3 separate regions of the Homo sapiens genome follow, and regions 2 and 3 are each reported to be linked to region 1. The links are microRNA targets in miRTarBase. Many come from high-throughput screens and were not tested one by one. Region 1 holds a microRNA gene; each other region holds the end of a gene's coding sequence.

Region 1 (3,255 bases):
TCCCACCCAGGGTCTCACAGCACTGAGATGAGCAGAAGGCAGCCCAGGTGCAGGGAATGCATGCAGCCGCCCCCAACATCCTGGCGAGGGGTGGGTGGCCTTCCAGCAGGATGCCTTCCAGCGGGACTAGCTCCCCCGTGTCCTCTGCCTCGATGACACTGGCCATGAAAAACAGACTGAGCCCCGTCACCATTGCTCATCAGCTTCATGACCGCCCCCCACCACAGTGCACAACCCTAGCATCTTCCCCAAAGTCCACATGGCCCCCCGAAAGCTCTCCCAAAATGATTCAATGGCGGGGGTCAGGGGAAAGGATGACAAATGTCACACCAGCCCATGCATTCACGTACCCTGGAAAGTCCCGCCTCAGGCGTGGCGCCCGCACACCACCGGGCGGTAGCGGTACTGAAAACAGGCCATCTGTGTTATATTCGTCATTAATAAAAGCGAACTCATCACAGACAACCTCTTCTCAGGTACCCAGAGTGCCATCGGCTCAAGAACGTGGCTGCCGCGTCCCGTGGTGCCAGCGCTGCCCCCGGGAAGCAGTCCTGAGGACGGATGGGACATCAAAGGTGAGAAGACACAGAGACAGGAAAGAGACCCCTGCCCGGCCCACTCTCGGTGACCAGGCCCCACTGAGGCAGCGACTCCAAAGCACCCGTCCTGCTCCTACCCTCAAAAGGGCTTCATCTCCAACGGGTCCTCCAAGGTGAGATTTGATACTGAGAAAAGATCAACCATGTATTATTCGAAGTCAATAAAGCGAATATAACACGGTCGATCTCCCTTCAAGTACCAGGAAAGGCGCTGAGCTGAAGCGCGATCGGCTCCCCGGCCCGCAGGCCCCACAGGCTGCAGCGGATACGGACGGCTAGTGGACCAGGTGAAGTACATTAGAAACAATTACTTTCCAACTGGTCGACCATCCATCCCCGTACCCCAGAATGGTGCTGATGCCGGCGTCCTTCCCCGAGGTGCCCCAGCCTCCAAGACGGCCTCCCTGGTGGAATTTGATACCGAAAAGGGGTTCACCGAGCAACATTCGTCGTCCAGATGCAAAGTTGCTCGGGTAACCTCTCCCCGAGTACCATGGAGAGGCTCAGATGCTCGGACTAAGGTGAATGCTTGCAGGCGGCTGTGCTTGCAGAAGACCCTCCCCCAAGGGCAGCACAAGGTCTGGGCATTCAGAGCCCAGAGCCTCACACTCTCCAAGGACGTTCCCAATCACCAAGTCCAACGATTCCAACCCCTTCCAGAATGAATCTAGAGACTCTTCCCAGAAGTTGAGTGCAAGACCCAGGTAGGATCTTATACTGAAAAGACGGCAACCTTCCTTGGGCACCTTGCTAAAGATGAAAATGAAACCCTGCTCGCACCCGCTTTTCATTCCCAGACCCTGAGAGGGGGTGACCCTGTAGGGACCCCTGCACAAGCACAGAGCCTCCCTCCCAGCAGAGGATTCCTTTGGCGGGAGCTCAACGGGGCACAACGCTGACCCCAGACCTGCGGTCTCACCAGCACCATCTCCAGCCCACAGAGGCATCACCCCAGGATCCCTCAAAGAGTAACTTCACAGTTATCAACAGCTGGCTGACCATCTGATTAGCCTCATAAAGCAAGTGAGACATTCAAAATAAGGGACTGGGGGGATAAATGCAGCAGAAGAAAGCAGGTGAGTCACAGATGTCTTCTCTTCACAAGGGTCAGGGCAGCCCTGACCTCAGAACCCAACCTTCCCCAGACTCAGAGAACACCCAGAAGGTGCCTCCTGGAGCGGGCAGCCAGCAAGCATCGGGCCAGACGATGGATGCCACAAGCAGAGTCCAGATTCTGTGCCCACCACCCATTCTGTGAACTTTGGAGTGGGACCGACAGCAGAATCCTTTCCCTGACGTTGGCATGAGCTCAGAGAGCCCTCTGCGCCTTGCTACAAGTGGAGCAAGAGGCCAGCCATGCGAGGCCTGCTGTAAAGAAAGAAAAGATGTCACAGACGACTTCCCTTCAGGAGCCATGGGCACTGACCTGCATCAGAGCCTCCTTCCTGGGGCAGGCATCACCTCCCAAGGTGGTCCCGGAACGCACCGGAGTCAGCAGGAGTGGAACAGATGACATGCACCGTGGGTACAATCGGGCCTGTCCCATGGGCGGCCCTCAGGCACCTGCCCTGGAGAGGGCTCCGGCTGCAGGCCGCCTCCTGAGGGTGCTGTTGCTTCTGGAAATTCTCCAGGTAGGGTTTGATCTGAAAAGAAAGCCATGTGCAATGCTGGTCACCAACAAAGCAGGCCAGCAAACAACGAGCTCTTTCCACAGCCCCAGCAAGGTTTTTGACCTTGGAAACATCAACTCCAGAATGACTTTCAGCCTCTATGACCAAATGACATTCGGCACCAACGAAGGGCACGTCCTTGGGGCCAGCATGGAACCATGTAAGGTATCAACAGCAGAGTCTGAGGAAGGACTGAACCCCAGAATGTTCCTGGATGCCTGTGTGTTCATCAATAGCCTTGGAAGTGTGAAAGGAAAGTTATCTCGGGCCCCTAAAATCACTAAGGAAAACTCAAGCTGGAAGCTGCTCAGGATAAACCTGCCTCTCATTCCATTCAAAGTCATCCCTCTGCTCACTGAGACAGATGCGTATCTGATTTGCCTCCTTTGGAAAGGCTCATGAGAAACGCGAAAGAATGTAATCATTTGTGTATCACCTGTCTGTGACCTGGAAGCTCCCTCCTTCCTGCCTTCGCTTCAAGTTGTCCCACCTTTGCAGACAAAACCAATGTACTTCTTACATGTGCTGAATGATGTCTCATGTCTCCCTAAAATGTATAAAGCCAAGCTGTGCCTTGACCACAGTACTTCCTGAAGCTGTGTTACGGGTGTATCCTCAACCTTGTCAAAATAAACTTTCTAAATTAACTAAGAGCTGTCTCAGATTTTCTGAGTTCACAGAAGCAACTGTCCTGAAAGACCAGACCCCACTGACCGTAGAACTTCTGCTTCCCTCCGGAGTCAGCGTCTCACCCAGAACCCTCCGTGGGGATGGAGGGAGACCAGGTGATGCCTGTCACTTACGTATGAATGCTCTGGGGACAACATGCACCCAGATCCCCGGGAGGACGCCTTACCAGTGTGTCACGCCTGAAGTCAGCACACCTTTCCGGGAAGCTCTCGGGAAGGTTTGGGGCAGCAAGAAAAGATCAACTGCATAAAGGGGGAGACTGTATCCCATTTTTTGACCCTAGGTTCCTACTGACC
Region 2 (3,209 bases), not on the chromosome of region 1:
GATCCTTTGCACGTGCAGTTCACTTTAGGGTTCGCGCTCCTATGAGAATCTAATGCCACGGCTGCTCTGACAGTAGGAAAGCTCAGGTGGTTAATGCTTGCTCACTAGGCTGCCACTCACCTCCTGCTGTGCGGCCCAGTCCCTAACAGGCCACGTTCTGGTACCCCTGGTCTAAGGTATTTAAACTTCTTTGTACCTCATTCTCACCTTCTTCTGATTTGTTAAAAAAAAAAAAAAAAATTGGTGGCAGAGGGTGGGGGAATGACAGCATTATCAACTCTTGTCATGAGGCTTAATGAGTTATTACATGTAAACTACTTAAAACAGCACGCAGCTGTTTTAGCTATCATTTTATATGTTCAGTTCTGAATCACTAATGACAGAAGACAATTCTGATATACAAACTAGCCCAAATGAACAATGTGCTAGTGTTACACTGACATGAATCTCTTAAAGAGTACAATGCAAATCTTAACACTTTCTTTGATGAGTTTTCAATAAGAATTCAATTAGTAAATTCTTTTTCAAATGGTTTTACCTCCATGCCATGAGCCCCTTATTTAAGGCAGGTTTCTCTCTTACTGTCTCTCTCTCATTCTCTACCTCAGCATATCCTGCTTGTTTCCTTCCTGGCATTTATTACAAGTTTCATTATTTTGTTTTCCCCAATGGATCTATGAAGGAGAGATCTCTTAACACATGCTAGCACACAGTAGGCACTCAAATGTACCCTGTATAAACAATGTAAACATTTGTAAATGTGTTTAACTCATACCAGATGAAAATTAAAGCAATAATGGTTACAGGTTCCTATTTTAAAGTAATAATCCAATTAGGGATTTGGTTTCATTGTAAATACATATGATTTATTAAAAATATAAACTGATGGTATTCTCTATAAATTATTCCCCAAACACATTAAAAGATGTGATAATAGATATAAATTTGCAAACCATTTATAGCCACCCTCCCCCTTTGAGTACAAGAGAAAACATACAACATACTGTAGGTTTATTTTTATTCAAAAAGTTACTGTCTCAAGACATAAATACAAATCAGAAAACAGTACAATTAGGACAATAGAATGTGGAGGACAACAGGTTAGAGTAATATATAAAACATTTTTAGCTGGTTGAAAACAAAGCTGTAAGAACTGCTTTCACAAAGAAGTACTCCTTTCAAGAGTGAGAAAAAAAATCAACTTAGGTTTAAAATCATATATACAGTCCTCTCAGCAGTTCTAGTTAATGCAGTGGTGTGTAAAACAACATAGGCAATACTTTTGCACATAACAATATTTGTTGATGGAAAATCTGTTAGACAAGTCTGGATTCATTTGTTATTAACCATGACTTAATAAAATAATTGTATCATGATCTTTTTAGCTAACCTATGGTTTTTGGCTACCACAGCCCAATGCTTGATTTCTGACTAAAAACTGAAAGCCTTTTGGTATTCACCCATCTGAAGATATTCTTGTATTGCAAGCATATTAAGGCATGGAATGATTAAAATAATATACCTCAAGAACTGAGAGACGACTGACAATAGATAGATACACATGTAATATAAGTTAATATTTTGTTTTAAACGATGTCTAGCTGCCTAAGCCTCGCAAAATGAGTTGATGTCAAAATGGCAAGTAGCCACTTTCTGTTTTAAACTAATTTATTTGTGAAAGGACATAAAATGAAGTTTAAAGCTTAGCTTTCAAAGAATATTATGGGTTATGAATTCTATTATCCCATCTAATTTACATACAGAGGAAATGTACTGTAACCTGTTAGAAGTATCTTTAACCTGAAGACTGCTTGCAAAGACAGATAGATAAAACAATATAAAATACAAATTTAAAAATCATTTTAAAGCATGAACACTCATGCTTTTCTATTTTTAAACATTGTTAAACTTTCAATATATTTCTGAAACCTCATAATTTTAAGTTGGAATTTAAAAGTAAGAAAAAACTAAACAAACTGCGCAATTATAAAATCAGCACCAATTTATATATATATATAATTTTATTTAAAATTTAGATCCCTATTCCCACACTCTAATAAGCTGTATAATTTTTGTTTAGAATTTTTCTGCAAACATACTACAATAAGCTTCTTTTATTTGGAGACAAAATACAGTGGCATTACTGGAAGGAATATCACAACATTACATTTTTATCTTAAAGGACAAGCAAACTTTCAGGGTTGATAATGGGATAAGCATGTTTGAGACTGGTTACCTTCTGGCAGTTCACTGCATCTGGATATTTCTGAAAAGTATAGAGAAGCTCTTGGATTTTAAAAATATCTTAAAATACTTTTAGATGAAAAAATTGTAAAAGTTCTGCTTATAAGTTTACTTTTCTCCACAATTACAATATTTAAAACAAAGTTTTGTTGATTGACGTTTTAAGCATTTAAATTTAGAATGCTAAAAACAATTCTATCCTACACTTTCTTCAGGGTAGGGGAATAAATACATCCTTAACATTGTTTTCTGGATGTAAACAGAAATCCAGCAGAGGTCATCATTATTTAGTACAACCAGTAAATAAATGTAAGAGAATTCATATCTGTACCAAATGCCTCTTCAGATTGTTATTTTGTTTTTTTTTTTTTTTAAAAAAAAGCATGAAATAATCGATTCAAAAGCCAACTAACAGCGCATAAATAAAATATTTACTTTCTAAGAAAAACTGTAGCTTATCATCAAATTGTTTACTTGTCCTTTACGTTTATTCAGGCAAACAAAACTGCCCCTCAATGCACTTGATCTTGGTAAGCATAAGCATGTCATATTCTCCTTAGAGAAAAATCTGTACAGAATTTCACTGTATCTACCACACTTTAAAATTTCCTCTTCCACTTAGAAAATGACTTCACCACAGATTTAATTGTGTACTGGTATTAAAACATTGACACTCCAAGAACCTAATGAGAGAGAGAGAGGGGAGAAAATCTCGTTAAAAGTCATTCATTTCTTTAAATATATCCATAAATATTACATTAATACTTTATTATGTTAAATAACATGCTAATAAAACCACTTTGAAAACTTCCCCTCTCTTCAGATGTATAATTCTAAAATTAAATTGACCATGATATATAATGAAATAACATCAGGACTAATCAAGATGCTACTTACCTCACATATAATTAAAGTAGGAACCTTGGATTAATTATGCTTATATGTACCACTAATGTCTAGATAAT
Region 3 (3,255 bases), not on the chromosome of region 1:
GTTTCCCCATCTTGCCTAAAAATGTCCTAGTCTAGTCTTTTTAGCAGAACTCCACTCCCTAAACATGTCAGAACTACACTTCCCATCAAGGGTCAGAAAGAAACTTCCGGCACAGTCTTTTCCCAGCATTCCTTGTTTACTTCCGGGTTTATTACTACTGAAGGAAGAACGTGAGTAGGTTAGGATTTCGGTTGAGAGGCTTGGGGTCTTGCGTTTCGCCCACCATCTCCTGGGGACAGGGTGGAGTCGATATCCGGGACGGGGGGGAGGTTGCGGTGCCCCTCAGGGCTACCTCTCAAGAGTGCTATCATTTCCGCAGGCCAGATCAGAAAAGGGAGCTCAGGTACCTTCCAGAGAGTGAGACCCAGCGCCCTTGTCTCGCACCCAGTAGGCTTTCATCCCCGCCATGGCGGAGCTGATCCAGAAGAAGCTACAGGGAGAAGTGGAGAAATATCAACAGCTACAGAAGGGTAAGGGAACAGGGTCGGTATGGTCTCGCCCAATGCACTTACAACCCAAAGCCATTACCGAGATAAGGTTTGTTGCCCCATCTGGGCCCTCGCGTGCAGAGACTTCCCCGCCTCAGTCTCAGTACTCTTCCCTGTTCACTCACCCGCTGCCCCCATCCTTTTCTGCTTCCTCAGATCCATATCCACCTGACTAGGATTGTGGGGATAGGTGGCACATTTGATGTTTCTAAATTGCCTTTCCTCTCATCCCCAGACTTAAGTAAATCCATGTCGGGGAGGCAGAAACTTGAAGCACAACTAACAGAAAATAATATCGTGAAAGAGGTGAGGGACTGGGATTTGTGGGGCGAGGAGGGACCTGTACTAGCCATGGTTCTGATCACATATGTCCCATCCCTCCATCAGGAACTGGCCCTGCTGGATGGGTCCAACGTGGTCTTTAAACTTCTGGGTCCGGTGCTAGTCAAACAGGAGCTGGGGGAGGCTCGGGCCACAGTAGGGAAGAGGCTGGACTATATCACAGCTGAAATGTGAGTTTTTATTCCACCACCGTGTGCTGCACCCTGTGATGCAAGTGAACCATTGGAGTAGAGGTGTTGAACCATTGCAGAACAGCTCTCCATAGTGGCCCCTAGTCCTCCAGTTCCTCCAACCCTTTCCTTCCCTTTTAACCCCCCTTCTTCTCCCTCCCCTGGATCTCAAGTTTTCCACCTATCTCTTTCTTGCGTTTAGCACTCTCCATAGTGAGTCCTACTAATTTCTCCCTTTCTGCTTGTCTCCCTTGTCTCTCCTTAGTAAGCGATACGAATCCCAGCTTCGGGATCTTGAGCGGCAGTCAGAGCAACAGAGGGAGACCCTTGCTCAGCTGCAGCAGGAGTTCCAGCGGGCCCAGGCAGCAAAGGCAGGGGCTCCTGGCAAGGCCTGACCCCATGGTGGGGGGAGGGGAGGGGAGGGGAGGGAATGAGGCAGCTCTAGGATCTATACTGTAGCTAATAAAATGTAAAAACACCTGGCTCTGTTTCCTGACCAGGCACTTCTGTCATATCCCCACAGCCCCTTCCACCTTAACACACACCACCTGTATTACCCCCTCAGGTTCAAACTCTTGCACTTGGAATCTCTTTGTGGCACAGTGTTCTTTCTTGAAAGTGAAATCCTAAATGTCTTCAAACCTACTTCTTGCCTGTATATACAACCCTTAACTCTCCCTCATCTTGGTTGGCATGATTCTTTTGGAAGGGCATTTGCAACATACCATATTGCTAGGAATGTCGGTTTAATTGAAAAAGAATACACAGTTCTCTAACCTGAGGCCCCAGGATGAAATGTGGTTACCCTCCTTGCCAACAGCCCTGGCATCTCTATTAGTACTTTTCAGCCTCTGTCTTCCTAGAATTTGCTTGAATGTAGCTTTAAACTGACTTAAAATCCCAGCATGTAATGCTTTATGGTATTATAAGTCCTCCCAAGTTTATATGTTGTCCATAAAGTTGTTCTGCCATTTCCTTGTCCTAAAATTGTTTTATACACATTTGCAGCAAGGGACCAGTGGTAGAGAGGTTACTGGAGAGAAACTGTTCTGAGGAAACTTTTTTCACCAATACCTCACTTTTTGCTCTGTTCATGGGGACAGAAAACATTGTGCCCCTTCCTGTTCCATGGCATCTACCTTCAGCCAATTCCCCACCCCCACTCATAGCAGCCAGTTCATATGTACTGCAAGGACAGGGGAGTAGAATTCAGGTAGTGTTTTGGTTTATTATCTTAGTGTTGTCACAGTGATAGAAACCCCCAGAGTGGGAAGAAGAGCTCCTGCGAGGACCTACATTTTGCCATTCCCCTCTGCCCTGGGGCTCAGAGCCTTGAAGCCTTTGCTTGGCCCTTGCATGTTAGGATATGGCCAAGAATCAGAAACTGATGCGTTTTTCCAGCACTACCTGTGTGCTGCACTCATGGAAGGTGGGAAGCTATACACAGGTATCCAACTTGGTTATAAGACACCAGTTCCCACAGGGCTGGATTTCTCAGCTGTCTGGTAAACCAGTGGCACTTCACTGCCCCAGGGTGGCTGGCTCCCTTTCTGAATTTCTGTCTCAATGTGATATAATTGCCACCATTCAGGATGGCTACCCACATCTGGTATGAACACCATGACTTCTGTAAGCCAACGGGGCTTCCTCCTCAGAACAGTGCCCGTGCAATCTTCCTCCCTGTGGCCTTGATCCTGGGAAAGGAGCCCCCTCCTCCCTCACTCGGAGGAGTTCCTGAGGCAGACGGGCCACTGGTGACGCCAGGTGTAGCAGTAGAGGACCTTCGCCGCTGCCGCAGGAGGAAATCGTGTGAAGCTCCATCCATGGCGTAGAATACATTAGCCGAGGCTGGGATAGTCAGCTCTGAAGGTTCAGGGGATGGATGTAAAGCACACACACAGTTGTTCCCCCCACAGCCGCCCAGATGTGGAAGTACTCCACTCTCCTCCCGAGTCTGCCTTTCCCTCATGGCCTCTGACCTCGCTCCCCTGGTAGCAGCTGTACCAGCTCATACTCTGAAGCCACTGCAGAGTCACGATTGTTTTTCTTAAGGACACGACTGATGACACTTGGAGCCTTGTCCTGGCTTGTCACCTGGCAGAACAGGAGACCAAAAGAGCAATCAATCAGCCATGATTTCCCATCCTTCTACCCTCAGCCACTGAACCCAACCACAAAATGTTACTTGTGTCCAAGGCTTTAAAATGAACAGGAAAACCCAATATGGTGGCTTCCTATACCCCATAAGCCAGCCC

The links. The annotated mature microRNA hsa-miR-409-5p reads AGGUUACCCGAGCAACUUUGCAU and lies in region 1 at 1,057-1,079, opposite strand. An mRNA with a match to its seed (bases 2 to 7 or 8) in the 3' UTR can be bound and repressed. Matches are read on the target gene's strand: a 7mer-m8 pairs with bases 2 to 8, a 7mer-A1 pairs with bases 2 to 7 and ends in A, and an 8mer does both.
Region 2: miRTarBase lists STAG2 as a target of hsa-miR-409-5p. Seed matches in the 3' UTR shown: 8mer at 2,230-2,237.
Region 3: the mRNA of RGL2 is a reported target of hsa-miR-409-5p. The part of its 3' UTR that is shown has no 7-base or 8-base seed match.

Annotation. Positions count from the first base shown.
Region 1 is chr14:101,063,138-101,066,392 of GRCh38, reverse strand. It overlaps MIR409 (microRNA 409), which reads right to left and starts at 1,093; the gene lies at 1,015-1,093. MIR541 (microRNA 541) reads right to left here and starts at 1,898; the gene lies at 1,815-1,898. It overlaps MIR412 (microRNA 412), which reads right to left and starts at 946; the gene lies at 856-946. It overlaps MIR369 (microRNA 369), which reads right to left and starts at 795; the gene lies at 726-795. It also overlaps MIR410.
Region 2 is chrX:124,100,292-124,103,500 of GRCh38, reverse strand. STAG2 (STAG2 cohesin complex component) reads right to left here. Exons shown (of 35, transcript NM_001042750.2): 35 at 845-2,927. The coding sequence ends at 2,904. Among named protein-coding and RNA genes, the nearest start is that of STAG2, 140 kb to the right of the region's middle.
Region 3 is chr6:33,289,451-33,292,705 of GRCh38, forward strand. RGL2 (ral guanine nucleotide dissociation stimulator like 2) reads right to left here. Exons shown (of 18, transcript NM_004761.5): 17 at 2,980-3,094; 18 at 2,204-2,863. The coding sequence ends at 2,652. PFDN6 (prefoldin subunit 6) reads left to right here and starts at 151. Exons shown (of 4, transcript NM_001185181.3): 1 at 151-470; 2 at 724-794; 3 at 876-1,000; 4 at 1,266-1,483. The coding sequence starts at 407. The coding sequence ends at 1,395. MIR6834 (microRNA 6834) reads left to right here and starts at 795; the gene lies at 795-875.